Linked DNA regions of Homo sapiens. The protein of the gene in region 2 interacts with the protein of the main gene of each other region in a biochemical or structural test. Each region holds a gene or a part of one and is shown on either strand. Other genes may lie near its edges. The genes, in order: ELF2, NFIC, TBXT and FOXL1.

What was found.
Region 1: the proteins of NFIC (region 2) and ELF2 form a complex in vitro, tested with the Homo sapiens proteins (one study listed by BioGRID).
Region 3: the proteins of NFIC (region 2) and TBXT form a complex in vitro, tested with the Homo sapiens proteins (one study listed by BioGRID).
Region 4: the proteins of NFIC (region 2) and FOXL1 form a complex in vitro, tested with the Homo sapiens proteins (one study listed by BioGRID).

Annotation. Positions count from the first base shown.
Region 1 is NC_000004.12:139,174,211-139,181,675, forward strand, and holds the start of ELF2 (ETS-related transcription factor Elf-2), read right to left. Parts: upstream 3,009-7,465; 5' UTR 2,757-3,008; intron 2,357-2,756; exon of another isoform or gene 2,295-2,356; intron 2,139-2,294; exon of another isoform or gene 1,945-2,138; intron 1-1,944. UniProt on the Homo sapiens protein: Isoform 1 transcriptionally activates the LYN and BLK promoters and acts synergistically with RUNX1 to transactivate the BLK promoter. Isoform 2 may function in repression of RUNX1-mediated transactivation.
Region 2 is NC_000019.10:3,376,581-3,383,603, forward strand, and holds part of NFIC (nuclear factor 1 C-type), read left to right. Parts: intron 1-5,131; coding exon 5,132-5,663; intron 5,664-7,023.
Region 3 is NC_000006.12:166,164,852-166,171,846, reverse strand, and holds the start of TBXT (T-box transcription factor T), read left to right. Parts: upstream 1-3,995; 5' UTR 3,996-4,255; coding exon 4,256-4,461; intron 4,462-4,990; coding exon 4,991-5,255; intron 5,256-6,006; coding exon 6,007-6,141; intron 6,142-6,985; coding exon 6,986-6,995. UniProt on the Homo sapiens protein: Involved in the transcriptional regulation of genes required for mesoderm formation and differentiation. Binds to a palindromic T site 5'-TTCACACCTAGGTGTGAA-3' DNA sequence and activates gene transcription when bound to such a site.
Region 4 is NC_000016.10:86,574,567-86,581,548, forward strand, and holds the start of FOXL1 (forkhead box protein L1), read left to right. Parts: upstream 1-3,982; 5' UTR 3,983-4,157; coding exon 4,158-5,195; 3' UTR 5,196-6,982. UniProt on the Homo sapiens protein: Transcription factor required for proper proliferation and differentiation in the gastrointestinal epithelium. Target gene of the hedgehog (Hh) signaling pathway via GLI2 and GLI3 transcription factors.

The DNA.
Region 1 (7,465 bases), on a different chromosome or scaffold from region 2:
AAAAAAAAAAAAGAAAGAAAGAAAATAGATTTTAAAAAAAAAAGAAATGAAGTACTGACACATATTACAACATGGATATACTTTGAAAGCATTATGCTAAACGAAAGAAGCCAGTCACAAAAGACCGCATTTATGGTTTCATTTACATAAAATGTCCACAACAGTCTAATCTATAATGATAGAAAGTCGATCAGTGGTTGCATAGGACTGGGAGTGCTGAGGGAAAATGAAAAGCGACTGTTAATGGATATGGGGCTCTTTTGGGGGATGATTAAAATGCTGTAAAATTGAGTATAGTGATGGCTGCACAACTCTGAATATACAGTCGGCCCTCCATATCCATGAGTTCTGAATACATGGATTCAATCAATGAGGTACAGAAACTACTCAAAAAAAAATTATGTCTGTAAATGAACATGTACAGACTTTTTTCTGGTCATTATTCCCTAAACAATACACAGTATAACAACTATTTACATAGCATCCACATTGTATTAGGTAGTATGAGTGATGTGGAGATGATTTAAAGCATACAAGAGAATATGCAGAGTTTATATGCAAATACTATGTCAGTTTTATTCATTTTTCCTAGGAGACAGGATTTTGCTCTGTCACCCAGGTTGGTGTCCAAACTCTGGCCTCAAGAGATCCTCCCACCTCAGCCTCCTGAATAACTGGGATTACAGGCACAAGCCACTGCACCCAGCAACTATGCCATTTTATTTTAGGGACCTGAGCATCCATAGATTCTGGTGTCTGAGGAAGGCCCTAGAACAAATCCCCAACAGATACCGATGGACAATTGTAGTAAAAACCACTGAATTGTTCACCTGCAAAATGGAGTAATTTTTTAAAAAATTAATAAACCCACCAAACTGTACACTTTAAACTGAACTGACTAGTATGTGAATTATATCATCGTGAAGCTGTTACTCCTCCAAAAATGGTATACAACATGAGCAGGTAAAGCCACTAACATTAGCAGACCCTACAGGCCACAGGTACCAATCTGTTTACTTAGGACAGAAAAATCCCAAAGTTACAAATTCTTTCCAACCATACTCAAGCTGACTATTTTGTAAATGAGTATTTATGTCTGAAATGAAAGGCAATGATAAATCCAATGAGTTAAATCACTAAACTTAAAAATAGGTTGACATAAATATTCAAACTTCAAATGCCCAGGATATTCCAATTTTCTATTTCATGTGTTTAACTACTAGATATCGTCTCAATAATATTTACATGAATGTACTCTGTAAACTGTAATGCTCTATAAAAAGTTTTATTATTCCTAAATTCCCTTAAATGTAATTTAATGGTTTCCAGTCCTATATAAGTCATTCTACCTTTTGAAGAAACTCTGAAACACAAATATCCAATCCTTTCTTAGTAAAGCATACATCCTTCCGTGATTCTGGCACCAAAGAAAGTGCATAATTTACTTCAGGATAGAGAATCACAGATAAAAAGGAAAACAAATCTGATTATCAAACACACGATTACTATTCTCTCATCACCGGATTACAATTTAAACCATTAAGCTGAAGTAAATGTTCATGAACACAAGAAAGGGGGGAATTTTTAACAGTTTTACAATGACGTGTCCCCCTCTTCCTCATTTAATGAAGTACTAAACTTAAAGGCTATTCTGCAGCGAATCTGCCTCCTAGAAAGAGTCCATCCAGGATGCTGGCAGAGGGAAAAAGATTAGAAACTGTGCGATCTGGATTATTCTTGGTGTCACGGAATATTTTTTGAGTCCTTTATGGACATGGAATAAAAATGCCCAAATGGAGCAGAAGAGAGGGCTCGGCTACCCTGATCACAAAGCTCCTGGGGTAGAGTCAGCATCCAGCCCTGGCAGAGCCCTCCCTGTCCTCCTTCCGCGCCCCTAGACCATCCCGTCGCGCGGTCCCTGAGGACCAGCTTCGCGAGGATCCAGAAGGCGGTCACTGGACGTGCCTGTTACGAGCCCGTTTTTGTTTTGCTTAAGAAACAGATTCCGATCCGAGCAAAGCCTCCCTACCTCCCGGGGAATAGGGGGAGATGGCAGCACGGTGCCGGCGTGGAGAGCGAGAATAAAAGAACTGCCGAGTACAACCTGTCGTGCAAGCTAGCAGCGCCGGGAAGGAAAGGTAAGCGGCGGCGATAAGGCACGACAGGGAAGGAAACTGGTGTCCAGCGCCCCCCCCCGCCTGCCCGCCACCCAGAGCGGCCGGAGCCTCCCAGGTCCCGCCCCGAGCTCGCCGCCCAGCCCCGGCGCCGGCCGCAGACTCCCGCCCTACACAAACCCTCCCAGGACGCGCTTCCTCCGGAGCCGGACCCCCGCCCTGGCCTCCCCGCGGGATGAGGCGGGTCAGTTCAGTCCGCTTCTCGGCAGAGGTGACTCGCGCAGAGATGTAAACACGGAGAGACCAGCTGCGCTCGGCCCATCCCCCCCGCCGGGGTCTGTAACCTCTTCCCTCAGCCCTGCCCCGCGCCCCGCGCTCCCCGCGGGCAGGCGCGCAGCGCGCCTTCCCCTTTCTCCAAGTCCCGCTCCGCGACCGTTGCCTGGGGACACTCAGCCCCCTTCCCCCAGCCCCCGGCCGGTGTCACCGCCGCAGCCGCCGGAAAACCCCTCCGCAAACCCCGAAGCAAACAACACAAGCGCGGGGCGGGGGCGCGGAGGGAGGCGGCGGCAGTCGGGACAGCCAGGCTTTATCGCCGCGCCCTTCGCGCTCCCTCTCACCAGCCTCGGCTGCCCGCGCTCTTACCTGCTCTCCGCGACGCCTGGGAAGACCGCGGCGTCCTTTTCCCTCTCAGCAGGGCCGCGGACTAGCCGCCGCCGTTGGCCGAGCGTCCGGAGGGAGCCGGGGCCTCCCCAGCAGCCCGAGCCGCTCCACAGGGAGAGAAGGAGACAAAACAGAGGCTCGCCGCCCCGCGCAGCGACCCCCGCCCGCGCCGCCCCACCGACCCCCAACCGCCTAGGCGACGGCGGCGACACAGAGCTTGGCGCTGGGAGCAATGGTTGCCCCCGCCCCGCTCCGCTCCCGGCCCCCTCCCTCCACCCCCCGCCTCGGCTCCTCCCCCTCGGCCTCCTGCCGCCTCCACCAGGACACTGGAGTCCGCCTCCCCCTCCCCGCCAGCTCAGAGTGCTCCTCCCCTCCCCACGCGGCGGGGGGGCGGGGGCGGCACCGCCAGTCACCGCAGCGCCTGTCAAACGCGGGCCGGCTATTTATACCCCGCGGGGCCCCGCCGCCCTCGGGCCCCCACCAGCCCGCCGAACCTGCTTCTTTTGCTGTCTTGAATCCCGCCCTCTTCTCCTCGCCCAACTTCTCCCAAACCCGCCTTCCCAGGTAAAGACGCTCGTCACTTGTCCGGCTCCTTGCCCAGGGCTCCCCGATCTCGCTCTCCACTCCAGCCCCGGATTGGTGCAGGGGGCTCTGCCGCACGGGGCAGGCGTGTGAGGCCGATGGGGCCGCGCGTGCACCTGCAGCGCCCGCCGGCTTTCCCCCGCCGGCCGGGACCGCACGCACACACCCTCGCCACTCAGGGCCCCCGCAGGCCCCGCCGTCACCGCATCCCCAACTCAGGACTCTCGCCCTTCTCCGGAGACGGCCCCACAGTCGGGCAGTCTGACAGTTACAGGGGGGCGAGGTTTTGCAAAAACTCCTAGCCCGGTCTTTCCAGTTCCCACTCCTCAGCCTTGGCTTAGTGAAAGGTGGGGGTTCGGGCAGGAGCGCGACGCCGGCCCCGCCCCGGCCGGTGACGCACGTGGCGCACCGCCCCGCCAGCCTCGCGCCCCTCGGCGCCGCCAGCTCCTCCTCCCCGCTAGCAAAAGCCGGGCGTAGTACACCCGCGACCCCGCCCCATTCCCAGAAATTACCACCCGCCCAACAGCCCGGCCGCGCGGCGGTTGGTGCCGGCGTTTGCTGGCTGTCGGGTGGCTGGGCCCAGCGCGCAGCTGCGGAGCGCGGCGGGCGGCCCCTTGGAGCTGCCCGGGGAGCTGCGGGCACTCGCACCTAGCCATTGTCGCTCCTTGCGCGGTCCGCAACGGAGAAGTAACTCAAGTCTGAGTGTTGTTGGTGCGAGAATGAGAGAGTGTTCTGGTGTGGGAGTATTTTGGCCCAAGTGCCTGCGAATTCGAAAACGAAAACCCAGCAGTGGCTGCACGCTTCTGGTTTCCACACTTTCACACAAAGGGGAGCCTTCGAGCGGGGCACTCTCACGCGCCTTCAAGTGCACAAAAGCCAATGACACGGTGCCGTGGGTTGCCCTGTGTAGGAGCGTCTCTTTAATGGGCTTTGTAGGCACAGTTAATGCATACAAACGCCTCAGTCTATTTCTTCACCACCACCATTCCCCGCCGCGGCGTTTTCTGTATTTGTTTCTTTAACAAAGAGCACAGCCTGTCCGGTGCGCGCGGGGCTCCTTTTGCTCCCCTCCAGGGCTCCTGCAGCCTCGCCGCGATGGACCTGGCACCTGGCGCGGTATTCACCAGCTGATTTCTGGGCTCCAGCGTTACCCTTTTTACGGCTTCACAACCAGTCTGGAGCAAAGAAGAAACACTGAGGAATATAAGTGATAGCTGTTCTCTTGAAAGGGACGTGGGAACCGTGGAAATCACCCTAGAGTAAGGCTCAAATGTCAGAAAGCTGCAGGAGGCTCCAGATTTAAATCCCTGAAGAGCCTAAGAATGTAATGATCTCTTTCTTTTGTTAATACTGCTGTTGCCTCTATTTTCTTGGGGGTGAGTCTTCTCTTCCTTTCTTAAAAAGCAACTCTGGGCCGGGCGCAGTGGCTCACGCCTGTAATCCCAGCACTTTGGGAGGCCCTGGAGGGTGGATTGCCTGAGGTCAGGAGTTCGAGACCAGCCTGCCTAACATGGTGAAACCCCGTCTCCACTAAAAATACAAAAATTAGCTGGGCGTGGTGGCACACGCCTGTAGTCCCAGCTCCTCGGGAGGCAGGAGAATCGCTTGAACCCCGGAGGTAGAGGTTGCAGTGAGCCGAGATCGCAACACTACACTCCAGCCTGGGCGACAGAGCAAGACTCCTTCTCAAAAAAAAAAAAAAAAAAAAAAAAAGGCCGGGCGCGGTGGCTCACTCCTGTAATCCCAGCACTCTAGAAGGCCGAGGCGGGCGGATCACCTGAGGTCAGAAGTTCAAGACCATCCTGGCTAACACGGTGAAACCCCGTCTCTACTAAAAATACAAAAAATTAGCCGGGTGTGGTGGTGTGTGCCTGTAATTCCAGCTACTCGGGAGGCTGAGGCAGGAGAATCGCTTGAACCCGAGAGGCGGAGGTTGCAGTGAGCCCAGATCGCACCATTGCACTCTAGCCTGGGCAACGAGAGCGAAACTCCGTCTCAAAAAAAAGCAAGTCCGAGGGCTCTTATTCTTATTTAAGAAATTTTTACTCTTGAACACAGAGGAAACCTGGAGACCGTGACTGTTAATCAAAGATCCTCTTAACTCTTGACAAAGTTTTCTGGATTCCTGAGTTCTAAATCATGGGACTGTTGACACCCTTTTGAACTAAAGAATTTGTAACAATTTGGTAACATTCAAATCTTTAATACACAATAAACAGGATTCTGCAAACAGAGCACCCTTTCTAAGGGAGTCTTTTTATCTCACTTCTTGTAAATAACTTATCACTTATGGGAACCATTGCCCAATTTGATATTTGTAAGGAATTAATTAATAATCAATAATATTGCATCTTCATAACATAACATAGCATACTAAGGAGCCGGCAAAGACAAAGACTGATTCCTGTTGTTAGGGACAGATATCACCTGCCAAGTCACATAATTTCTGTTGTCAGCCACGTTGAGAAGAAATTCTCTCCCACTGCCGATTGGCAGTAAGCTGGAAAGTCCCAGGTGGATAACAGTGGTAGATAACATTATTGTTCCCAATTTTTCACTACTCCATGCATGCATGCCATTTGAAATACGGCTTTGTAGTTCCTCTCAGTAGAGATAGGATGTTTCTCCATCCTGTTCATGTTGAGCTTAGATCAGTCCATTTGCTTTTGGTCAAAGGAAGATAGGCAGAAGTGAGTGTGACAGTTCTGAGCCTGGCCTCAAGAGGTATTTCATGTTTCTCCTTCCCTCTCTGGCACTCTTGTTTTTCACAATGTGAAGAACATACCTGGCTAGTTTGCTGGTCAAAGAAATATGAAGCAGGTCTGAAGCCAGTCCCAGCTTGGGGTCAGCAACCTAGAGAATAAAGGATTGTTGTTTCAAGCCGTGTTTTGGAGTAATAGCGTTTTGGAGTAATAGTGTTTTGGAGTAGTTGGTTCCTGGAATTAGTGTTGTGATAGCTGACTGAAACAACAGCAGAAAGAGCAATCTGCTTCCTTCATATTGGCCTGCAAGGTGCCTAACTTGGTGTGTCTCAGGCAGCTCTTTGGCTATGGTTCTTAAACACATCCCTTATGGAGGCCAGCGGAGTAAGGAACCCAGAAATTTTACAGCAAGCTTGTCCAACCCAGGGCCTGCAGGCTGCATGCGGCCCTGGACCGCTTTGAATGCAGCCCAACACAAATTTGTAAACTTTCTTAAAATACTTTTTTGCGATTTTTTTTTTAAGCTCATCAGCTATCATTAGTGTTAGTGTATTTAATGTGTGGCCCAAGATAATAATTCTTCCAGTGTGGCCCTGGAAAGCCAAAAGATTGGACACCCCTGGTTTACAGTAAAGCATTCTAGAGAACAGGGGTCAGAAGGAAAAGTCTAGTGTGACCAGTAGTCCTAGTAGCAAGCTAATGATCATGGAATAGGAAATCTCTGTTGTAACTGGATTGCTTTTGCTGTTTTTTATGTTATATAGTTTTTTATGTTATATAGTTTATTTTTTAATTATTTTTATATTTTATTTAATTATTTTTATTATAGTTTATTTTTTAATTATACAATGATTCATTAATACATTCTCATCATCAATTTTCAAATAATTCAAAATAAACTTTTTAAAACCCAAGTTCACCTTCCCTCTCCATTTCCCTTCCCACTTCTCACTTACCCTTCACACTTACGCAGCCATCCCCTACCTCTACTTTTCCACAGATAACCATAAATGAAAATTTAGCCTTTAAGCTTCTAGGCCTTTTTCTGTGCATGTATATACATATACATATATTTATATACTAAATATAAATGATTATATGCATATTAGGTATAATGCTTTTATACTTCTTTTCTCTGTGTTATTTCTCCCTTTGTTTTCTTCAATATATAGGAAAGTGATTTTTTTTAAAATTATTTCATCCTTGGCTGGGTGCTGTGGCTACATCTGTAATCCCAGCACTTTGAGAGGCCAAGGTGGGAGGATCATTGAGCCCAGAAGTTCAAGACCAGCATGGGCAGGAGGATCACATAGTTTGAGACCCCATCTCTACAAAGAAAATAAAATAAAGTTAGCCAGGTGTGGTGGTATGGATATGTAGTCCCAGCTACTGGGGAGGCTGAGGCAG
Region 2 (7,023 bases):
AAAATTAGCCAGACATGGTGGTTTGCACCTGTAGTCCCAGCTACTCAGGAAGCTGACGTGGGAGAATCGCTTGAGTCTGGGAGTTCAGGGCCCAAGTGACCTAAGATCGTGCCACTGCACTCCAGTGAGACGCCTGTCTTTTTTATTTATTTATTTATTTATTTTGAGACGGAGTCTCGCTCTTGTTGCCCAGGCTGGAGTGCAATGGCGCGACCTTGGCTCACTGCAACCTCTGCCTCCCGGGTTCAAGTGATTCTCCTGCCTTAGCCTCCCGAGTAGCTGGGATTACAGGCGCCTGTCACCATACCTGGCTAATTTTTTGTGTTTTTAGTAGAGATGGGGTTTCGCCATGTTGGCCAGGCTGATCTCAAACTCCTGACCTCAGATGATCCACCCACCTCGGCCTCCCAAAGTGCTGGGATTACAGGCGTGAGCCACCACACCAGGCTGAGACCCCCATCTCTTAAAAAAAAAAGTAATAAAAATCACAGTAGCCCCAGCACTTTGGGAGGCCGAGGCAGGCGGATCACGAGGTCAGGACATTGAGACCATCCTGGCTAACACAGTGAACCCCCGTCTCTACTAAAAAAAAAAATACAAAAAATTAGTTGGGCATGGTGGCGGGTGCCTGTAGTCCCAGCTATTCAGGAGGCTGAGGCAGGAGAATGGCGTGAACCCGGGAGGTAGAGTTTGCAGTGAGCTGAGATCGCATCACTGCACTCTAGCCTGGGTGACAGAGCGAGACTCTGTCTCAAAAAAAAAAAAAAAAAAAAAAAATCCAATAGCAATATAAGTTGTAATGATAACAATCATCGCATCATTAATAACAATGTAGTCCTTTGAGAGCTGGGGGGAGGAAAACAGCTTTCTGTGCTAGGAAGGGATCACCCCTGTCCGAAATGCCCAGCCCAGCCTGGTCAAGGCAGGGAGATGGAAAGGCAGTTTTGCTTCTCTTTCTCTTCTTGTTCCTTGTATTTATTCCACCTTGAGGCTGAGAAACTAGGTCCCAGATGTTTTTAATTTGTTTTATTTTATTTTTTATTTTTTTAGAGACAGGGTCTTACTCTATCCCCCAGGCTGGAGTGCAGTGGCACAATCACAGCTCACTGCAGCCTCGACCTCTGAGGCTCAAGTGATCCTCCCACCTCAGCCTCCTAAGTAGCTAGGACTACAGGTGTGCGCCACAGCAACTATGCCCAACTAATTATTTTTGTAATTTTTAGTAGAGACGGGGTTTCGACATGTTGGTCAGGCTGCTCTCAAACACTTGGGCTCAAGTGATCTCTCCACCTCGGCCTCCCAAGTAGCTGGGACTACAGACGCGCACCACAAAAATTATGCCCAGCTAATTTTTGTAATTTTCGTAAAGATAGGGTTTTGCCTGCCGGCCACAGTGGCTCACACCTGTAATCCCAGCACTTTGGGAGGCAGAGGCAGGTGGACCACCTGAGGTCAGGAGTTCAAGACCAGCCTGGCCAACATGGTGAAACCCCATCTCTACTAAAAATACAAAAATTAGCTGGGCATGATAGTGTGTGGCTGTAATAGTGTGTGCCTGTAATCCCAGCTACTCGGGAGGCTGAGGCAGGAGAATCTCTTGAACCTGGGAGGCGGAGGTTGCAGTGAGCCGAGATTGTGCCACTGCACTCCAGCCTGGGTGACAAGAGTGAAACTCTGTCTCAAAAAAAAAAAAAAAAAAAAGGAGATGGGGTTTCGCCATGTTGCCCAGGCTGGGATTGAACTGGGCTCAAGTGATCCACCCACCTCAGCCTCCCAAAGTTCTGGGATTACAGGCGTTAGCCATAGTCCCCAGCTGAGATCCCAAATGCTATGCAGACTCAGTTTCCCTTGCTGGAAAATGGGAAGAATGGGAGGGGCCTCCCCACACCCAGACAGGGAGCTGGGGGCCTCCCACTGCCCCACATTTCTCTTCAAGGGGCTGCTGTTATTTTCGTGGGGAAGTCAGATGAGTGCAGGTTCCAGTCCACCTCTGTCCCCCATGGCCGGGTTCCCCCTCAAGGCCTCAGTTTCCTCATCTGTAGCATGGGTGTTGTGACTGCCCTCAGACACCAATTTGTCATGATTTGGGAGTAGGTTGAAGTCCCAGCTCTGGCCCAGTCTCAGCGCCTTCCCAGCCCTCGGATTTTCCATCTCCAGGGTGGGTCTGCAGGGAACGGGGTGGCCCCTCTCCCCAGTTCTGAACCTTTGTGGCTGAGCGTCTGCTTCTCTGGTCTGTTTCTGTATCAGCACAGTGGGTTCATGGAAAGGGGAAAGGAGGGAGAGGACTCCACCCGGGATTTCTCCTCCCTCTGATTAATCCTGGTGCACTTGAATCTCTTATCTTTTGATGCAGAAATCCCCCCACCCTTCCAGCAGCCCTCAACCTCCAGGCGGGCCTAGTGTCTGCCTGTGGATCTCAGCCAGGCCTGTCTGTACATATGCTCTGTAGGAACAAGCTTTCGTAGTCATTTTTTGTTTTTTTGTTTTTTGTTTTCCCAAGATGGAGTCTCGCCCTGTCACCCAGGCTGGAGTACAGTGGAGTGACCTTGGCTCACTGCAACCTCCACCTCCCAGGTTCAAGCAATTCTCCTGCCTCAGCCTCCCAAGTAGCTGGGATTACAGTCATGCGCCACCACGCCTGGCTAATTTTTGTATTTTTAGTAGAGACAGAGTTTCACCATGTTAGCCAGGCTGGTCTTGAACTCCTGACTTCTTGATCTGCCCGCCTCGGTCTCCCAAAGTGCTAGGATTACAGGCATGAACCACCGCGCCCAGCCGGGTTTTTTTTTTTTGAGACGGAGTCTCACTCTGTCGCCCAGGCTGGAATGTAGTGGCGAGCTCTCGGCTCACTGCAACCTCTGCCTCCTGGGTTCTCCTGCCTCAGCCTCCTGAGTAGCCGGGACTACAGGCGTGTGCCACCATGCCCAGCTAATTTTTGTATTTTTAGTAAAGATGGGGTTTCACTATGTTGGCCAGGCTGGTGTCAAGCTCTTGACCTCAAGCGATCCACCTGCCTCAGCCTCCCAAAGTGCTGGGATTACAGGCGTGAGCCACTGCGCCCAGCCTCATTTTTCATTTTTTTTTATTTCTTTCTTTTTTTTTTTTTTTTTTTTTTTGAGTCAGGAGTCAGGGGTCTCACTACGTTGTCACCCGGGCTGGAGATCAATGGCGCAACCTTGGCTCACTGCAGCCTTGACCTCCTGGGCTCAATTGATCTTCCCACCTCAGCCTCCCAAGTAGTTGGGACTGCAGGTATGCATCACCTAGCTAAGTTTTGATTTTGTAGAAACGGGGCCTCGCTATGTCATCCAGGCTGGTCTTGAACTCCTGGGCTCAAGCAGTCCACCCACTGTGGCCTCCCAAAGTGCTGGGATTACAGGTGTGAGCCACCATGCTTGGCCGCCGACCCTAGTTTTTTTTTGTTTTGTTTTGTTTTTTGAGATGGAGTCTTGCTCTGTCGCCCAGGCTGGAGTGCAGTGGCGCAATCTCGGCTCACTGCAAGCTCCGCCTCCCGGGTTCATGCCAATCTCCTGCCTCAGCCTCCTGAGTAGCTGGGACTACAGGCGCCCGACACCACGCCCGGCTAATTTTTTTGTTTTTTTTTCAGTAGAGACGGGGTTTCACTGTGTTAGCCAGGATGGTCTCAATCTCCTGACCTCGTGATCTGCCCGCCTTGGCCTCCCAAAGTGCTGGGATTACAAGCGTGAGCCACCGTGCCCAGCCTTGTTCTTTTTTTTTTTTTTTTTTTTTTTTTGAGACAGTGTTTCACTCTTGGCACCCAGGCTCCCAGGCTGGAGTGCAGTGGCACAATCTGAGCTCACTGCAACCTCTGCCTCCCAGGTTCAAGCGATTCTCCTGTCTCAGCCTCCTGAGTAGCTGGGATTACAGGTGTGCTCCAATATGCCTGGCTACATTTTTTTGTATTTTTAGTAGGGACGGGGTTTTGCCATGTTGGCCGGGCTGGTCTCAAGCTCCTAACCTCAGGTGATCCACCTGCTTCGGTCTCCCAAAGTGCTGGGATTACAGGTGTGAGCCACTGCGCCCAGGCTTTTTTTTTTTTTTTTTTTTTTTGTGACAGTCTTGCTCTGTCGCCCAGGCTGGAGTGCAGTGGCACCATCACAGCTCACTGCAGCATTAAACTCCTGGGCTCAAATGATCCTCCCACCCCAGCCTCCCAACTAGCTGGGACTACAGTTGCAAACCACCATACCTGGCTAATTTTTGTTTTTTTGATTTTGTTTGTTCATTTGTTTTGTAGCGATGGGGTTTTACCATATGGCTCAGACTGGTCTCAAACTTCTGGGCTCAAGCAGTCCTCCCTCCTCGGCCTCCCGAAGCGCTGGGATTACAAGTGTGAGCCATTACACCCAGCCCAACCCTAGCTGCAATAGGCAGAGAATAGGTCCCTGACATCTTTGTTCTCCCAACCTCAGTTTTACCCGTCTGTACAATGGGTTGTCCATGAGCCTCCACCTGGCCCCCTTAGCTTGCTCCATCTGCATGCTGGGGTTCAACATAGGTCCTCCACGGCTGGGCATGGTGGCTCACACCTGTCATCCCAGCACTTGGGGAGGCCGAGAGCCGAGGCGGGCGGATCAGAGGTCAGGAGATCGAGACCATCCTGGCCAACATGGTGAAACCCCATCTTTCCTAAAAATACAAAAATTAGCTGGGCGTGGTGGTGGGCATCTGTAATCCTAGCTACTCGGGAGGCTGAGGCAGGAGAATCGCTTGAACCCGGGAGGTGGAGGTTGCAGTGGGCCGAGATTGCGCCACTGCACTCCAGCCTTAGCGTTAAGAGCAAGACTCCGTCTCAAAAAAAAAAAAAAAAAAAATGATCCTCCACAAACTTCCGCCTTGATTTGTGCCTCTCACATAGTCCAAGTCTGTTTGCTCATCTGGGCGATGGGTTCTTGCAGGTCCCTGATAAACTTCTCCTGGGTCCCCCGGGCCTTTTGCGTGCCTCCGGCGGCGTGCACGGGTCCGCAGCGACCCCCTGCCCACCTCTGCCCAGCCCCTCCCACTCTGCGGGTCTGTTCAGGGCCCCTCCGACCTCAGCCTTCGGGGCCGGGCAGTGGGTCCGCCCTCTGCGTCCCTGGCGCTCCTGACCTCTCGCCTCTCCGGCCTGCAGGATGAGTTCCACCCGTTCATCGAGGCCCTGCTGCCTCACGTCCGCGCCTTCGCCTACACCTGGTTCAACCTGCAGGCGCGGAAGCGCAAGTACTTCAAGAAGCACGAGAAGCGGATGTCGAAGGACGAGGAGCGTGCGGTCAAGGACGAGCTGCTGGGCGAGAAGCCCGAGGTCAAGCAGAAGTGGGCGTCGCGGCTGCTGGCCAAGCTGCGCAAGGACATCCGGCCCGAGTGCCGCGAGGACTTCGTGCTGAGCATCACCGGCAAGAAGGCGCCGGGCTGCGTGCTCTCCAACCCCGACCAGAAGGGCAAGATGCGGCGCATCGACTGTCTCCGGCAGGCGGACAAGGTGTGGCGGCTGGACCTGGTCATGGTCATCCTGTTCAAGGGCATCCCGCTGGAGAGCACCGACGGCGAGCGCCTGGTCAAGGCTGCGCAGTGCGGTCACCCGGTCCTGTGCGTGCAGCCGCACCACATTGGCGTGGCCGTCAAGGAGCTGGACCTCTACCTGGCCTACTTCGTGCGTGAGCGAGGTGAGGTGTGGTGGCCTGAGCGGAGCGGCCAGCGGGGAGGGTGTCTGATGGTGGTGACACGGGGCCAGGAGGGCCTGAGGGAGGAGGCCAGTGCGTGTGGGTATGATGTGGTGGTCTGAGAGGGGAAGTGGGCCTTGGAGAGTGCCCAATGGGGGCGACACGGGGCACGGAGCATCTGAGGGAGGAGGCTGGTGGGTATAGATGTGATGTGGTGGTCTGAGAGGGGAGGCGAGTCTAGGAGAATATGTAAAGTAGGTGATATGGCACAAGGAGAGTCTGAGAGAGGAGGCCAGTGCATATAGATGTGATGTGGTGGTCCAGGCAGGGCAGCAGGCCTGGGAGAGCATCTGATGGGGGTGACATGGTGCAAGGAGGGTCTGAGGGAGGAGGCTGGTGCGTGTAGATGTGATGTGGTGGTCCAAGCGGGGAGGCGGGCCTGGGAGAGCGTCTGACGCCGGGTGACACGGGGCAAGGAGGGTCTGAGGGAAGAAGCCAGCATGTGTAGATGTGATGTGGTGGTCTGAGGGGGGAGGCAGGCCTAGGAGAGCGTCTAATGCAAGTGATATGGTGCAAGGAGCGTCTGAGGGAGGAGGCCAGTGCATGCAGGGCCCAGGGTGGCTGCTGATGGGATGTGGAGGTCAGATGGAGGAGGCAGGCCTAGCAGAGGTCTCAAGTGAGAGATGGTACAAGGAGGTTTTTTTGACAGAGGAGGCAGGTGGGCTGTGGCGCTCCAATGGTAGAGGCAGGATCTCACCCTCACGTCTGAGGGAGGAGGCAGGAAGGCCCTTGAGGTCTCAGGGGGATGAGAATGTCCTAGATGGTCTTGGGCACAACGGACGGCCTTGCTGGGAGCAGGGGTGAGGAGAGGAGAGGGACAGGCCATCCCAGCCCTCCGAGGAGAGCCAAGAGAGTCCTGGCACCGCTTTCTGTGAATGCTTGTTGGTTGATTGACTCTCAGACCATGCCAGCAGAGGCCTGATGAGCCTGGCCCTGCCAGAGGGGTGTTTGCCGGTGGTCAAATGCCTGATGTTGAGACCAGCTAGCTCTGTGGGGTTGAGGAAATCCAAGGCGGCTTCCCAGAGGAGGAGGTGCAGCTGAGCTCAGCTCTGCAGGATGGCCAGGCCACAGTGAACAAGGAGATGCCCCAGGGGTCCTGGCAGGAGCGTGGAGATGAGAGGCCTGATGCCTGTGCCTCTGGTCCCGGTGCTAAGAGCAGGGTTGGTCCTGCAGCTTCTTGGCTGCGTGGCCCTCTTGGACTTCAGTTTCTCTTGCCTGCCAAATGGTGGAGATGATCAGTCTGTAGCTGGATGGGGCTATGGGAGGTTCCAGAAGATCATGCGTGTAGCCACGTGCGAGGTGT
Region 3 (6,995 bases), on a different chromosome or scaffold from region 2:
AACTTGAATTCCAAAGAGATAGGAGCTGAAGCACTAGAGTTTTAAGGAGAAAGGTTTGGGATTGTCACATTCCCAAACATTCAACTGGGCAGGTTGGTTTGTTGTTAATCTGTGAACTCCTGTCACTAAAACAACCACACACTGTCATGTGTGACGAAGCCCACTGACTCCAAAAAAATAGCTTGGATGGGATCAGGTTTTGAGACGCAGCCTGAGGCTGACGGTAGTCCCTGCGTCCACCCCACATGGCCACAGCTTCCCTGCAGATCAGGGAGCACATCACGAAGCCTTCTCCCTAGAGCAGCAGGGAGGGGCCGGCTGTGCACAGGGTGGGATCCTTGTCCTGAGAGGAAGACTTTAAAAAACCAAGTCTCTGTTCTTTCCCACAAAACCACAACCACCTCAAACAACCCAATGGGCTTTAAAAATTTTTCAATGGTAAAGAGTCTAAAGAATTACGTTACACACCTTTTAAAGCAATAACAAAAGCCATTGGGTTTCTTTTAATGGGAGAGACAAATAAACCAATTGGTGGCAGAATTATTGGCCATGAAACATGGCTGTCATCTCTAATGTAGAACTTGTGACTGTTTGCGATCAGTCCGCTTAGTCAGTGTGGGAGAAGGAGCTCATGAGAAGAACAAAATGAAAAAAAGACGAGGAACACCCCAAAATATGAACATTGCTTAGTGCTTGAGGTTAGCATTTATATACATAGAGAGAGATAAACATACAGCCAGCCCTCCATAGCCACAGGTTCCATATCCGTGGTTGGTTGAATTGATAGAAAACATTCCAAACTCCCTCTCCCCAATAATGAAAGAATAAAAATTATACAAATAAAAAGCAATACAGTATAACTACTATTTGCATAGTGTTACATTGTATTAGGTATTATAAGTAATCCAGAAGTGATTTATAGTTCATGGAGGAAGTCCATAGGTTATATGCAAATACCATGCCAAGGGACTAGGGCATCCCTGGATTCTGCCATCTTTGTAGGTCCTGGAACCAATCCCCCACAGATACTGTGGGTGACTGTTTTACATATATATGAAGACAGATACATATATAATATTTCTACAAGGAGTACATATATAATCAGAAAAGAAATTCATTTGTTTTTCTTGCAGAAAGAGAGGGACTAGAGTGTGGGGTAAGAGTCACGCGAGGCTGTCCTCCACCCCTCCTTGAGCCTGTTACAGCTTCATTGTTGCCTGCTTCTAAAGATAAATGGCTTTGCTTTTTCAGAAGGGATTGGGCCCAGGAAAACTGCCTCTCTGGGAGTCGAGTGGGGTGTGTGTGTGTGTTTTCTTATAAAATGTTTCAAGCATGTTTTCGGTGGGACAGTTGCATCCTGAGGCCCAGCCATAAGGCTTTGTCTTGTTTTTCTCTGAATGGCTGGGCTTGCCAAGGAGAGATAGACCCTGGGAGCGAAACAGCTGGCGGTGCCTCAGCCCCTCTTTCCTCCCAAGGAAGCGCATTGTTATTAACTGGGAATTCTTTATAGCCGGGCTGGAGGAAGTTTTGGCTGTAAACTGTCATGCACTGCAGCCTTCGCTGAAAAGGCGGAGGGAGTGGGCCTGGTCCTGGGAACCGAGGAACAAAGATCAGAAAATCAGCCACAGAAAGGGGAGGAAAAATAAACGTTAGAAAGTGAAGACAGGTGACACTACACAAGTGCTGGCCAAAGTCGGTGACTTCCAACCTCTACCTCCTCCGACTTGGGTGGTTCAATTCCTGGGTCGTACTCTTCAATGCTTCAGACATTCTCTCTGGAGAGTAGAAATTTTATTACGCGTGTTAGAAACGGAATATTCTTTCCTGCTGAAGTTGTATTCTTATTTGGCCGTGCCCCTCCTGTTCGGAACAGTTTTAGAGCGATCTGTTAAACCCTCCAGTCTTCTTTGGCGCTTCCCGACTGTGGGAAAAGCGGCCGCGACGCCGTCCGAGCGCAGGGGAGGGATCCAGCCTTCGGGACTCCTTTGCCCTGAAGCCGCAGGAGAGGTTTCGCTCCCGTGCCTAGGGTTCCGAGGCCCTCAATTGCCTGGGACCCACCCTCGTTCCTCCTTCACCTCCCCTCCACTTTTCCCTTTTATCTTATCCTCGGGAGGCCTTGGGCCAAAGCGATGACCTCTTAGACATTTTAATACCCGGAGTAAGGAGAGTAACACGCACCACGCTCTCCCCCAAAGCCCAGGACCCGATGAGCCAGTGAAGGCGTGTCAGGAGGGTCCGGCGTCAGGAGCAAATGAGGTCCTTTTGGTGCCTCTTTCTAGAAGGAAACTTCCCCACCTCGGGTCAGCCCCCTGGGAATATCCATGCATCCCAGACATCAAAAGACACTGAGAAATGCGGACAGGGACTAGACGCTCCGGCTTCCTGACTCGTCGGTGTAAGTTGGAGAAGGGAGAGAAGGAGCCCTGTCCCCCACGGGCGGCAGGCACCCTTCCCCGGGACTGGCTCCTGGCAGCCCTCCGCATACCGCGAGGCGGGTCGATCCCTCGAGTCCCGGGCGGGGATCCCTCCTTCGGCTTCCCCAGCAATTCCCGACCCCGGAGCGAGCCCGGCTGGGCGAGGGGCGAGGGGCAGGGGGCAGGGGGCAGGGGAGACTTAGCGCGGGGCGCAGATACCATGTCCGCGGGAAAGCCCCCTTGCTAGGGCGCAAGACTCCTCTGAACTCGCTGCCCCACCCGATGCGCAGGCTTTCTCTAGAGGGGTTGGGGCTGGGGTGCCCGCTCAGGAGACCGGGAAACAGAGGCTGCTACCCGAGGCAGGCCCTCGTCCAGCGAATGGGCGAGGTGTGCAGAAGCGCAAAGCCAGGCCTTGGAAGGGGGAGCTTCTGCCTCCTTCCCCCTTCCTGGGCTCCCGTTTTAGGAGGAATGTTACTGTTTAAAGAGACCCCACTGAACTATTTCCTGCTCATTGTCACCTCTCCTTCGCTCTCCTCGCGTAAGTTCTCACCGAAAGGTAATAAAACAACCGCTGCCGACACCGCTTGGCGCTGGGCCGGGCGGGGAAAGCGCCCCGAGTCCCACTAGTCCGGACCACCCCGCCAGCCCCGACCTTCTCCCACCTTCCGTGAAAGCAATGACACAGCAGAAACCACGCACACGCCTGGCACACTCGATGCGCGCGCTGACCTCGGCAACAAGTCCTGTTTTTATAAGAGAGCGAGGAGGACACTTCTCAGAAGGGGTTGTTTTGCTTTTGCTTATTTCCGTCCATTTCCCTCTCTGCGCGCGGACCTTCCTTTTCCAGATGGTGAGAGCCGCGGGGACACCCGACGCCGGGGCAGGCTGATCCACGATCCTGGGTGTGCGTAACGCCGCCTGGGGCTCCGTGGGCGAGGGACGTGTGGGGACAGGTGCACCGGAAACTGCCAGACTGGAGAGTTGAGGCATCGGAGGCGCGAGAACAGCACTACTACTGCGGCGAGACGAGCGCGGCGCATCCCAAAGCCCGGCCAAATGCGCTCGTCCCTGGGAGGGGAGGGAGGCGCGCCTGGAGCGGGGACAGGTGAGGCCGCGCGAACGTTCCAGCCTGGCGCGGCTGCGGGATCCGGGCGCGCTGGGAAAGCGAGGAGGACCCCGCGCGGGAATCAGGGAGCATCGCAGGCTGCCGGGCAGCCCCTCGCGGAAGTGCGGGCTGGGGCGGGCTGGGGCGGGCTGGGGCAGGCCGGGGCGTCCAGCTTACCTTCCTCCGGGGCTTGCCCCGCCGCTTTGATGGAGGTGCAAACATTTGGAGAAGGGCGGGGGTGTAGGGGCTGGGCCGGGGCTCGCAGGGCTGGGGCCCCGGATTTACATGAAACAGGCGTGCGGGAGCCCATTGTTGGCCCCCGGCCTCCCAGACCCGCCCGGCTGGGTCTGATATGGCCGCTCTCGGCCAATGGGAGGCTGCCCGGCACTTCAAAGCGTGCGCGGCCCAATCCGCCGAGCACCCCAGCGCTGCCGCCGCGGCTCTATTTATGGGGAGGGCACTGAATTTCGGTCCCCAGAGACCTACACTAGTAGAGCCTTGGGGAGTTCAAGTGGAATAACTTCTCCCCACCCCTCTGCCCCCGTCCCCTCCCCCCAAGTCTTGGTCCGCGCCCTCCTCCCGGGTCTGTGCCGGGACCCGGGACCCGGGAGCCGTCGCAGGTCTCGGTCCAAGGGGCCCCTTTTCTCGGAAGGGCGGCGGCCAAGAGCAGGGAAGGTGGATCTCAGGTAGCGAGTCTGGGCTTCGGGGACGGCGGGGAGGGGAGCCGGACGGGAGGATGAGCTCCCCTGGCACCGAGAGCGCGGGAAAGAGCCTGCAGTACCGAGTGGACCACCTGCTGAGCGCCGTGGAGAATGAGCTGCAGGCGGGCAGCGAGAAGGGCGACCCCACAGAGCGCGAACTGCGCGTGGGCCTGGAGGAGAGCGAGCTGTGGCTGCGCTTCAAGGAGCTCACCAATGAGATGATCGTGACCAAGAACGGCAGGTGGGTGCGCGTCCGGAGCCCGCGCGCGCCGCGCTCTCCAGCGCCTGGGCAGCCTGGGGGACCTGGCAAGTTCCCGGAGGTCGAACCCTTTTTCTCCTGGAGGAGGGCTTTGTGTTTGTTCCCGCTCTGGTTAACTCCCTCGAGTGCATTTCTACAAGCCCCTCTTCTGGGGCTTTCTCCGCGGAAGCTTGGGGAGGAGGAACGCGCACTTCGGTGTCCCGACCTCGGAGGCATCCCGGGACCCGCGAGGCGCGCCCTGGTCCCCGCCTGTCCCCGCGGGATGTGGCCTCCTGCACTGAAACCCTTCGCCAGGTCCTCTCCTCCCCTCCCTCCCGAGGCCGTGGAGATGGTGAGGAGGCCACCTGGACCTGGCAGGGCTCGGGGAAGGGGGAGCTTGGGAGTCACCCTCGGACGTTCCCCAGGGGGCTCCTCTGTGCCCCGAAATAACTGAGGCCTCTGTGCCCAGCTTCTGCCTCCGGCCTACCTGGTCAGTGTCGGGGTCCTCCTGCGCCCGCCCCGTGTTTTCCAGGAGGATGTTTCCGGTGCTGAAGGTGAACGTGTCTGGCCTGGACCCCAACGCCATGTACTCCTTCCTGCTGGACTTCGTGGCGGCGGACAACCACCGCTGGAAGTACGTGAACGGGGAATGGGTGCCGGGGGGCAAGCCGGAGCCGCAGGCGCCCAGCTGCGTCTACATCCACCCCGACTCGCCCAACTTCGGGGCCCACTGGATGAAGGCTCCCGTCTCCTTCAGCAAAGTCAAGCTCACCAACAAGCTCAACGGAGGGGGCCAGGTAGGTGTGAGGAGCCCGCCAGGTCTGGGACCAGCGAGGAGGGGGCCGCGCTGCGCCTTCTGCACGGGGGTTGTGGGAAGGGACGCTGCTTGAACGGGAGGCGACGTCTGCCCTGGAGAAACTGCCACAGCCTTCTCTAATAAGGCCTTTAGCGCTGTTTATACTAAGCTGATAACATCCACGCCTGGCGAACGGGGAGCGGGAGCACTCCCCTTTGAAGGACTGGAGCTTTTGGGGAACTTCCGTTGTCTAGCCCTAAACTCTCCTGGGGGTGGAAAAGATATCAGCCTTGATGGCAAAGTCGCATTTAAATTTAAACATGCGCCACAGTACTTACTGCGTGGAGTCGGAACAAACTTGTAAAGTCGTGCTTTTCTAAAGAACATTCTTTAGTCGGGGATTGTTCCTGGAAGACCCCAGGTTAGGCAAGTTGCAAACAAGCTCAGTCTTTTAAAAATGACCATAGCCTTCCTGAAAGCCTTAGTACTTTATTCCACCAGGTGAAAGGATTTTGTGATGAGCATTCATTGCTTTTAATGGTGTGTAGCATCTCACATCCCTTTTCCAAACAAGCTGTGGGAATAGCACATATAAACCGCGGAGAAGCCTCCCCTGGTGGAACCCCACTTCCCTCAACAGCAGAGACACTTTCTTGGGATCCAGAGGACTTTCTGCATCCTGGAGAAATGGATGTTTTGCTGTTTTAACGCAGGCCTTTCAGTGCCACCAATCCTGTATCTGTCTCCCTCAGATCATGCTGAACTCCTTGCATAAGTATGAGCCTCGAATCCACATAGTGAGAGTTGGGGGTCCACAGCGCATGATCACCAGCCACTGCTTCCCTGAGACCCAGTTCATAGCGGTGACTGCTTATCAGAACGAGGAGGTGAGAAGGACAGAGGCGGATCGCTTTCCCGGTGTGCTGCGGTGTGGTGTGCTGCTCCGTGGAGATTCTGGAGGAGCGGGGAGACGCGCTAACCCGCACTGAGAGGAAGGCTTCCTGCCCTTTCAAATAATATTCCGGAACTTGAAATGGAAGCACAGGAGAGAACTGTTTAAATTAAGTCCCCATTCAAACATTTTCCCCTTGAATTCTCCATACAAGTGTTTAAAACTAGAAACAACTTCTCAATGCTCAAAATGAAAAGATCCAAAAAGCATTCAGGTTAAATGGTGTGAGAATTTCTTGAGAACAAGACTTGAGTGAGAGAGGGGCATGTCCTTCCTTGGAAATCTTCCCCAAAGGGTGGGGGGGCAACCCCTCAAATCTCTGCAGTGTGAAGACTCAACTAGATACAAGCTACTGCATAGGTGCCTGTAAATCTATGCCTAAGCCCAACCCCAAAGTACTGCAAATTCGACATTAGTTGGATACCTTGTTGGTGTTGACGTTGACCGAAAACTAGAACTTCCAGGTCTCTATTTCCTAAGCAGCCCCAGACTGTGTTTTCAGCCATTTCTGATTTATACACATGGAACATTGTTAGTAGTAGGTTAAATTTATTGTGAATCCCACTCAGAACATTGACATTGAAAATTTTTCATAAGCATGCTACTCTGTACAATTACTCAGCTATTTTCAGTTCCAAATAGAAAACTGTATGTGGAAAGAAGTCTGATTATATTTGAATATTTAAAAGTGGTACTGGCATTTCTCAATTTCTTGGTGCCAAATTAAATCCCCTGGCTAATAGGGAATATACTAGTAAATGCAATTTCTTGTTTTTCAGATCACAGCTC
Region 4 (6,982 bases), on a different chromosome or scaffold from region 2:
CTTCCACTCTTTTCAAAGTGGGCGGGGAGGGAAGGAGGAAGAGGTCTTCTGGGTTTTGGTGGAACATAAGCAAGGACTCTGGGATTTTCTTATAATGTCCTGAATCTCCCAGCTCCAGGGGTGCTGCACACCCTCTCCTCTCTGGAGGGCCCCTCTCCCACTGTCTACTCCAGACAATCTCTGCCTCTGAGTCCTTCCAGATACCTGAGCATGTCAGACCCCAGAGCACCCACTTTTGGAGGACACTCACGTGGGCTGTGGTCCCTGTGCGGCCATTTCCTACTTTCAGGGTCTTGGGGTGTTATGTGCCGAGCCTCAGTTTCATCATCTGTCAAATGGGTGAATCTGCCACGCCTGCCTTTCACAGATTTAGTAAGAGTTGGCAAGAGAACTTCCATGGAGCCCTGAGTGTCCACACCTGGTGCTATTGTAAGATTATTTTCTGTCTTTGGAGCACTTCCTCATGGGACACCTGAGGCAGGTTAACTTACAGGGCGTTGTTCAGTTTCCTGGTTTGCAAAATGGGAGCGACAAAGGTTTCTATTAGGGCTGCTGTGAGGATGAAATGGCTCAGTACATTCTAGTTATTCATATTATTATCATCTGTCTCCAATGTTTTTAGGTTGTCAGTAAGGTGAGGGGCTAAACCCTTCATCTTTCCACCGCAGCTCTTCTCAAACATGCTACACGCGGTTGAATCATGCATACGTATGTAACACACACACAAGTCGTACATGCGGTAACTGTCTTTACGTTTGGAAAAGTGATGCAGATGTTTGGAAAGCGACACAGATTACTGTTAACTCAGGTTTCTGCTTTTTGCTTTCCAGTGAGGAAGGTTGAGTGGATGGCTTGGGGCGCAGTGGGAGGAGCTCTTGTCTCTCACCCGTCAGCCTTTTTATCTGAGGCCGTTTTCATCACCAATGCCTGGTCTCTGATCTGCCTCCCTGAGGAACGCACATGCGCTTTGTCCCAGGACTGGGAAGGAGGCTGACTACCCTCATCCCACGCTGAACCCCGTTTCTGCTCAAGCCTCAGAGTTGGAAACTCCAGTCCTTCTGGAGCATCCGGGCAGGCCAGAGATCTCAGGCTTTTCTTGCAGGCTGGGAGGTGAGCCCTCACCAAGTGACTTCTCAGATGACGCGCTTTTCTGGGATCCGAGGCTTATGAATCTACAGGGAACATTCAGTGTCCCCATCTGGCTCTCTAGGACACTCGTTCTAGAGGCCCGCCCGGCCGTCTCCCAGCTCGGCTGCCCCCCGCAGGCCCTTCGCTCTGGCCTCAGCCAACAGAGCCTCCGCACGAGGGCGCATCCGCTCTCGGACTCCTAGGGCTTGAGCCTGCACTCCCCGGAAATATGGAAATTGCCCCAGCGCGGGGTTCCTTCTAACAGAGGCCCCTCCTAGGCTCAGGTTACAAACTCATCAATCACCCGGGAGCCCGGGATTCAAACCCGCTCTGGAGCGGGGCTGGGGCGCAAAGCCGGAGTTCTACAGCTGAAACCTCCCGGAGACTTTGCACACTTCTGCAAACGCGCGGGGCTGGGTGTGCGTCTCCAAACCGCGACTAGAGCGTGGGCATTTGTTTTTTGTTTTTTGGTTTTTCTCTCTCTCTCCTAATCTCTCTCTGTCTCTTTCTCGCTCTCTTTTTTTTTTTTTTTTTTTTGCTTTACTATCGGTGCCCCGCCCACCAGCCTCCCGTGTCTCCGCCCACGTCCCGCCCATTACCAAATCGGGCAGTATTTATCACCGTACAAATTCAAGCTCGGATTTGCCTTAGAGTTTAGAAGACGCGCCGGGACGGCGGGAGTTTCGGTAGAGGCAGGGATGTGCGTGCTGGACTTCGGGTGCCGCGTGGGGAGCTCCAGGAGGGGCTGTGGGATAGGAAGGTGGGGAAAGGGTTGCATAGTGACACCGGTTTATCTCTCGGTCTGGGTGTGTTGGAGCGAGCGCCGAGGCTGGAGAAGGAACTGGATCCAAACTTGAGCTTGCTGGGGGCGCGCGGCCCCGGAGAGGTTGGGTGACCCCAGAGACTGTGGGGCCTGCGGGTTGCAAAGGCGCTGGCATTGAGGTTTCTTCACCCCAAGTTTGAAAGGGGTACGCGGGTGAGAGCGAGTGGTAACGAAAAGACAAAGCCTCGCCCCTCCTGGCCAGAGGTTCACCCCCAGGACCTAGGCGGGCGCGGCCGGGCTGCTCGCTGGACCCACGTTAGAGGAGCAGGGCCGCGGAGGGAGGCCCGAGGTGTCCCAGGGACTGGCCTGTCGCTCCCGCAGGCAGTGCCGGTACCCAGGCCGGTTTTTCCACCCTTCCTGCGACTTCCTTTTTGGTATTTTAAATTTACCCGCTCCCCTGCGGTCTACTTATTCCATGGGCTGGATACCCAGGAACCCCAAACACACGGGTTATTTCTGATTTTCTCATTTTGAAAAAGGATGCCCGCCACGTTTCCGTGTTCAGAGGCTACCTGGGCACTCACATCCTCAGCCGGGTGTGGCAGCGGCAGACACTCCCCCTACCCCTGTAAGTGCCCTCGGTGCCTCTCCCTCCTTCCTGGCCCACTGGCAGTGGGCCATTTCTACACCCACCTGCCATCCTCCCCCTTCCCTCATCTCTTTGACATGCTCACACGATTTGCTCAATGAGACGCCAGTTATCCGAATGTGTGTGTGTGTGTGTGGGTGTGTGTGTGACAGTGTGTGTGTGTTTTAATATTCAGGGGGTGGTCATAAACAGGAAGTAGTCACACTAGGTGCCTCTACCCTTACCCTAACCGGTGGAGTGGGGAGGAGAGGCCCCCTTCGAAATCAGCATGATTCAGGATTTTTTATTCAAACAGTGATGTGGGAAAATGTAAAATGAGATGGGGGTGGAGGGCCGCGTACACCCCAGGGTGGGTGGATACAGGGAGAGCAAGCAGGCTTCCCAAATGCCTAATGTAATCACGGGCCAGCTGCATGCACTTGTAAAGTTGTTATAACCCCCTCCTTGTTATAAACAGGAAAGCCCAGAATATAAAGCTGGAGACCCACATTCACAAATACCAGGCCTCCCGCGCCAGCTGCCACGGCCTCCTTTTATGGTGTTCCTCTCTTGCAACCTTGGCCCCATCAGGAGGACCTTACTTTTGCCCCCGGTTCTCTAAATGGGTTTATTTTGAAACCTTCCTCAATGGAGCTGTGGACCATGAGCTCTTCCCCAGGCCCCCAGTGCCTTAGGCCTTCCCTTCCAGAGAGACTGGGCTCCCAGAGTCCACTTTCCCTCCGATTTCCGGAGAGCCCTGGAAGGGAGGGTGTGGGAGAGCAGGTCCCTAGAGAGTGCCACCTCCTACTGGGTCTGCCACCTGTTTTTCCAGGGAGGGCCGCATCCCCTTCTCAGCAGACACTCAGGCTTCTTAGATACTCTCCCTGCCCCAATCTAAAAGGTTCCTAGGACCTCAGAAAGTGTTTTACTAGACTGTGGCATCTCGATATCTCCGGTTAAGCCTGGGAGAAGAAAAGACCTTTTGTGGGAGGCCCTGGCGTTATGGGGCTCCCCCAGGCCAGCGTAAAACTCATCCCTGCACACCCACCCCCATCTCCACCTCTCCTTCCTGGCTCAGCAGACCCTGCTCTGAGCCACCGCAGTCTACATCCTGCCTCACTGACTGTGTGTGCTTACAGCGTCAAGGGGTGGACGTGATATTTCAAACATCAGATCAGTGCGTTTATATATTGGGTGCCCGGAAATTTTTCCAAATAAACACAGCTTGATTCAACTTGGGTGGGCGGACTTATCAACAGACTAATTCTATAAACAAATGAAGGAATAGCCCCAAAACCGATTGGCTGGTATCAAAAAGACACGTGGAGGGAAAAGCTTGGAGTTTTTCAGCAATGAAATTTTAATTAATGTGGGTGGGCTGAGAACACAAGGACTGTTTATCATAGACAATTTATTTTCCAGGGCTAAGTCAACATATAACAGCAAACTTACAACAATTATTTAACATTTTTAAAGCCATGAAGAAGGGACAGAGCACGGAGCGGCCGGGGAGAGCGGCAGAGCCAGAGGCAGAGGCACGGCTGGCTCCCCGGGAGGGCCCTTGCGGCGCGGGGCGCAGTGCCTAGGCCGCCCGGGTCTCCTGCGTTGCGGGGAGCGCAGCGCAGGCTCTCGCTTGCCATGAGTCACCTCTTCGATCCCCGGCTGCCTGCCCTGGCCGCCTCGCCCATGCTGTATCTGTACGGTCCCGAGAGACCCGGCCTCCCTCTGGCCTTCGCCCCCGCGGCTGCTCTAGCTGCCTCGGGCCGGGCCGAGACCCCGCAGAAGCCTCCCTACAGCTACATCGCGCTCATCGCCATGGCGATCCAGGACGCGCCCGAGCAGAGGGTCACGCTCAACGGCATCTACCAGTTCATCATGGACCGCTTCCCCTTCTACCACGACAACCGGCAGGGCTGGCAGAACAGCATCCGCCACAACCTCTCGCTCAACGACTGCTTCGTCAAGGTGCCCCGCGAGAAAGGGCGGCCGGGCAAGGGCAGCTACTGGACGCTGGACCCCCGCTGCCTGGACATGTTTGAGAACGGCAACTACCGGCGCCGGAAGAGGAAGCCCAAGCCGGGCCCCGGGGCCCCGGAGGCCAAGAGGCCCCGCGCCGAGACGCACCAGCGCAGCGCGGAGGCGCAGCCGGAGGCGGGGAGCGGGGCAGGGGGCTCGGGCCCCGCAATCTCCCGCCTGCAGGCAGCGCCCGCGGGCCCCTCGCCCCTCCTGGACGGCCCCTCTCCGCCGGCGCCCCTCCACTGGCCGGGGACCGCGTCCCCGAACGAGGACGCTGGTGACGCTGCCCAGGGCGCAGCGGCCGTGGCGGTCGGCCAGGCAGCGCGCACAGGGGACGGCCCGGGGTCCCCTCTGCGCCCCGCCTCCCGCAGCTCTCCGAAGAGCTCCGACAAGTCCAAGAGCTTCAGCATAGACAGCATCCTGGCGGGAAAGCAGGGCCAGAAGCCGCCTTCAGGGGACGAACTCCTAGGGGGTGCCAAGCCTGGGCCCGGCGGCCGTCTGGGTGCCTCGCTCCTGGCCGCCTCCTCCAGCCTCCGTCCGCCTTTCAACGCTTCCCTGATGCTCGACCCGCATGTCCAGGGCGGCTTTTACCAGCTCGGGATCCCCTTCCTCTCTTATTTCCCCCTGCAGGTTCCCGACACGGTACTCCACTTCCAGTAAAGCAAACAATGGCACGGTTCTTCTCCCGGCCCAGCCTGAGCCTCCGCTGAGCGAAAGGCCACAGCTCCCACCGGCGGAGGATTTTAAAATGATCTTTGCCTGGGTCGGCCTGTGGGTTCAGGGAAGTGTTACCAACCATTGCGCGCAGGTGGGCGCGCTCGCCTGCCTTCTCCGAAGCAAACTTTTCCCAGCAACTGGGAGCAGCTACGGAGACTTAAAAGATCCCCGCGGGGTCGTGGGCACCGCACGTGGGCCCTGCAGGGACCTCCACCGCGGGAGATTCCTTGACGTTTGACCTGTCTAATGGAGTGTGGTCTTCAGCCGCCCACCGCAGGTCCTGCGAGTCCCGGGCATGCAAGGGCCCGCAGACCACCCAAGGCAGGCCTTACAGGTGCAGTTGAGGTCCTTTCGACCGGGGACCCCCGTATGACCGTCGCCTGCTTCGCTGTTGCCGTGTGGCTCAGGCCTTGGTTTTGAGCCCATCTGGGTGGTGGGTGGTCACAGCTGGGTTTGTTCCTGACTTGAAGTTGTGGAGGTGCCGGGGGTGACCCCGGGTTTTCAGGTTTTCTGAGAGATGTAGGGCCCGATGAGGATTTATGACCAATGTTCAGCTATAGAAGCTGATAACCACCCAGAGCAATAACACTTTTATTTTAAACAGAGACTTTTTCTCTTAATTTCTTTCTGGGTAGTAAAAAGAACATGTTTCATTCTTTGCATAAATACTTGACTCTAAGCATTGACCTTTGAAAACGCTTGTATTAACAATTTTTATTAAGAAAGTGCACTCTATATAACATCTTCTTGCATTACGATAGCTCATTAGCCAATACACATGCAGCTATGTAAGCCACAACAGCAGACGTCCTATCCTTTTGCTTTTGTTTTTAAGGGATCAAAATATTTCAAGGGATACCATGAGGAAGGGTGTGAGGGGAAGGGGATATGCCTTGGACAATGTCAGAGTTTTGATTTCCATGTTTTTTCAAGATCCAGGCTTGGTGGTCGCTATATTTTTCAGAAACAGATAATGAAAGACTACATTTAATTTAAAAAGTTGGGTGAAACAACCAAAAGCAGATGCAGAGAGAGAGAGGGATGAATGCGGGGGAAGAATAAGGGGACGTGCTGGTGTCCGCTGGAAGGGGCCTCTCTGGGCCCCAGAGGACCTGAGGTTTGATGGCAGGAATCTCCCAGACACTCCTGGCCCCCGCACCCCCTGCAGCCGCCCGCTCTTCCCTCCCAGCCCTGCCAGGCAGGCCTGGAGGCTGATACTAAATCAAAACCTTAAAGAGGTGACTGGCAGTCTGGGGAGGGGAGAAGAGGTCTGCAACGAAAATCTAATTAAGAACATTGAGATGTTCACAACCAAGTTCAGCTTGCAGCTTCCGGGGAAATGCAACCGACCTCTATGCCATCTCTAGCTGGGTAATCTTCGAGGCCCTGAAATGCAATTTTCTGAACCTCTAAGTCACTTTTATTTTATGTCATGTGATAAAGACACAAGTAGTCACGCACTATTGGAAATAGGTTGGGAGGGAGGTCTTTAAGATCGCTTTTAAAATAGTTTCCAGGACTTGTCTAAAAATGATGACAAACTTTGAATCCAGAGGGCCTGTTGGTCAATGTGTTGGAAAGGACATTTCAGGCCGGCAGAGTAATTGGATAATTCACAGGCATAGAGGTGACTTTTGGAAAATTCATTCTCCTATCCATGCTGAACCAGGCTTCCACGACTGGGTTCTACCCAGGCCAGTGGGAAGACTCTGGGAAACTTCAGGCCAGCC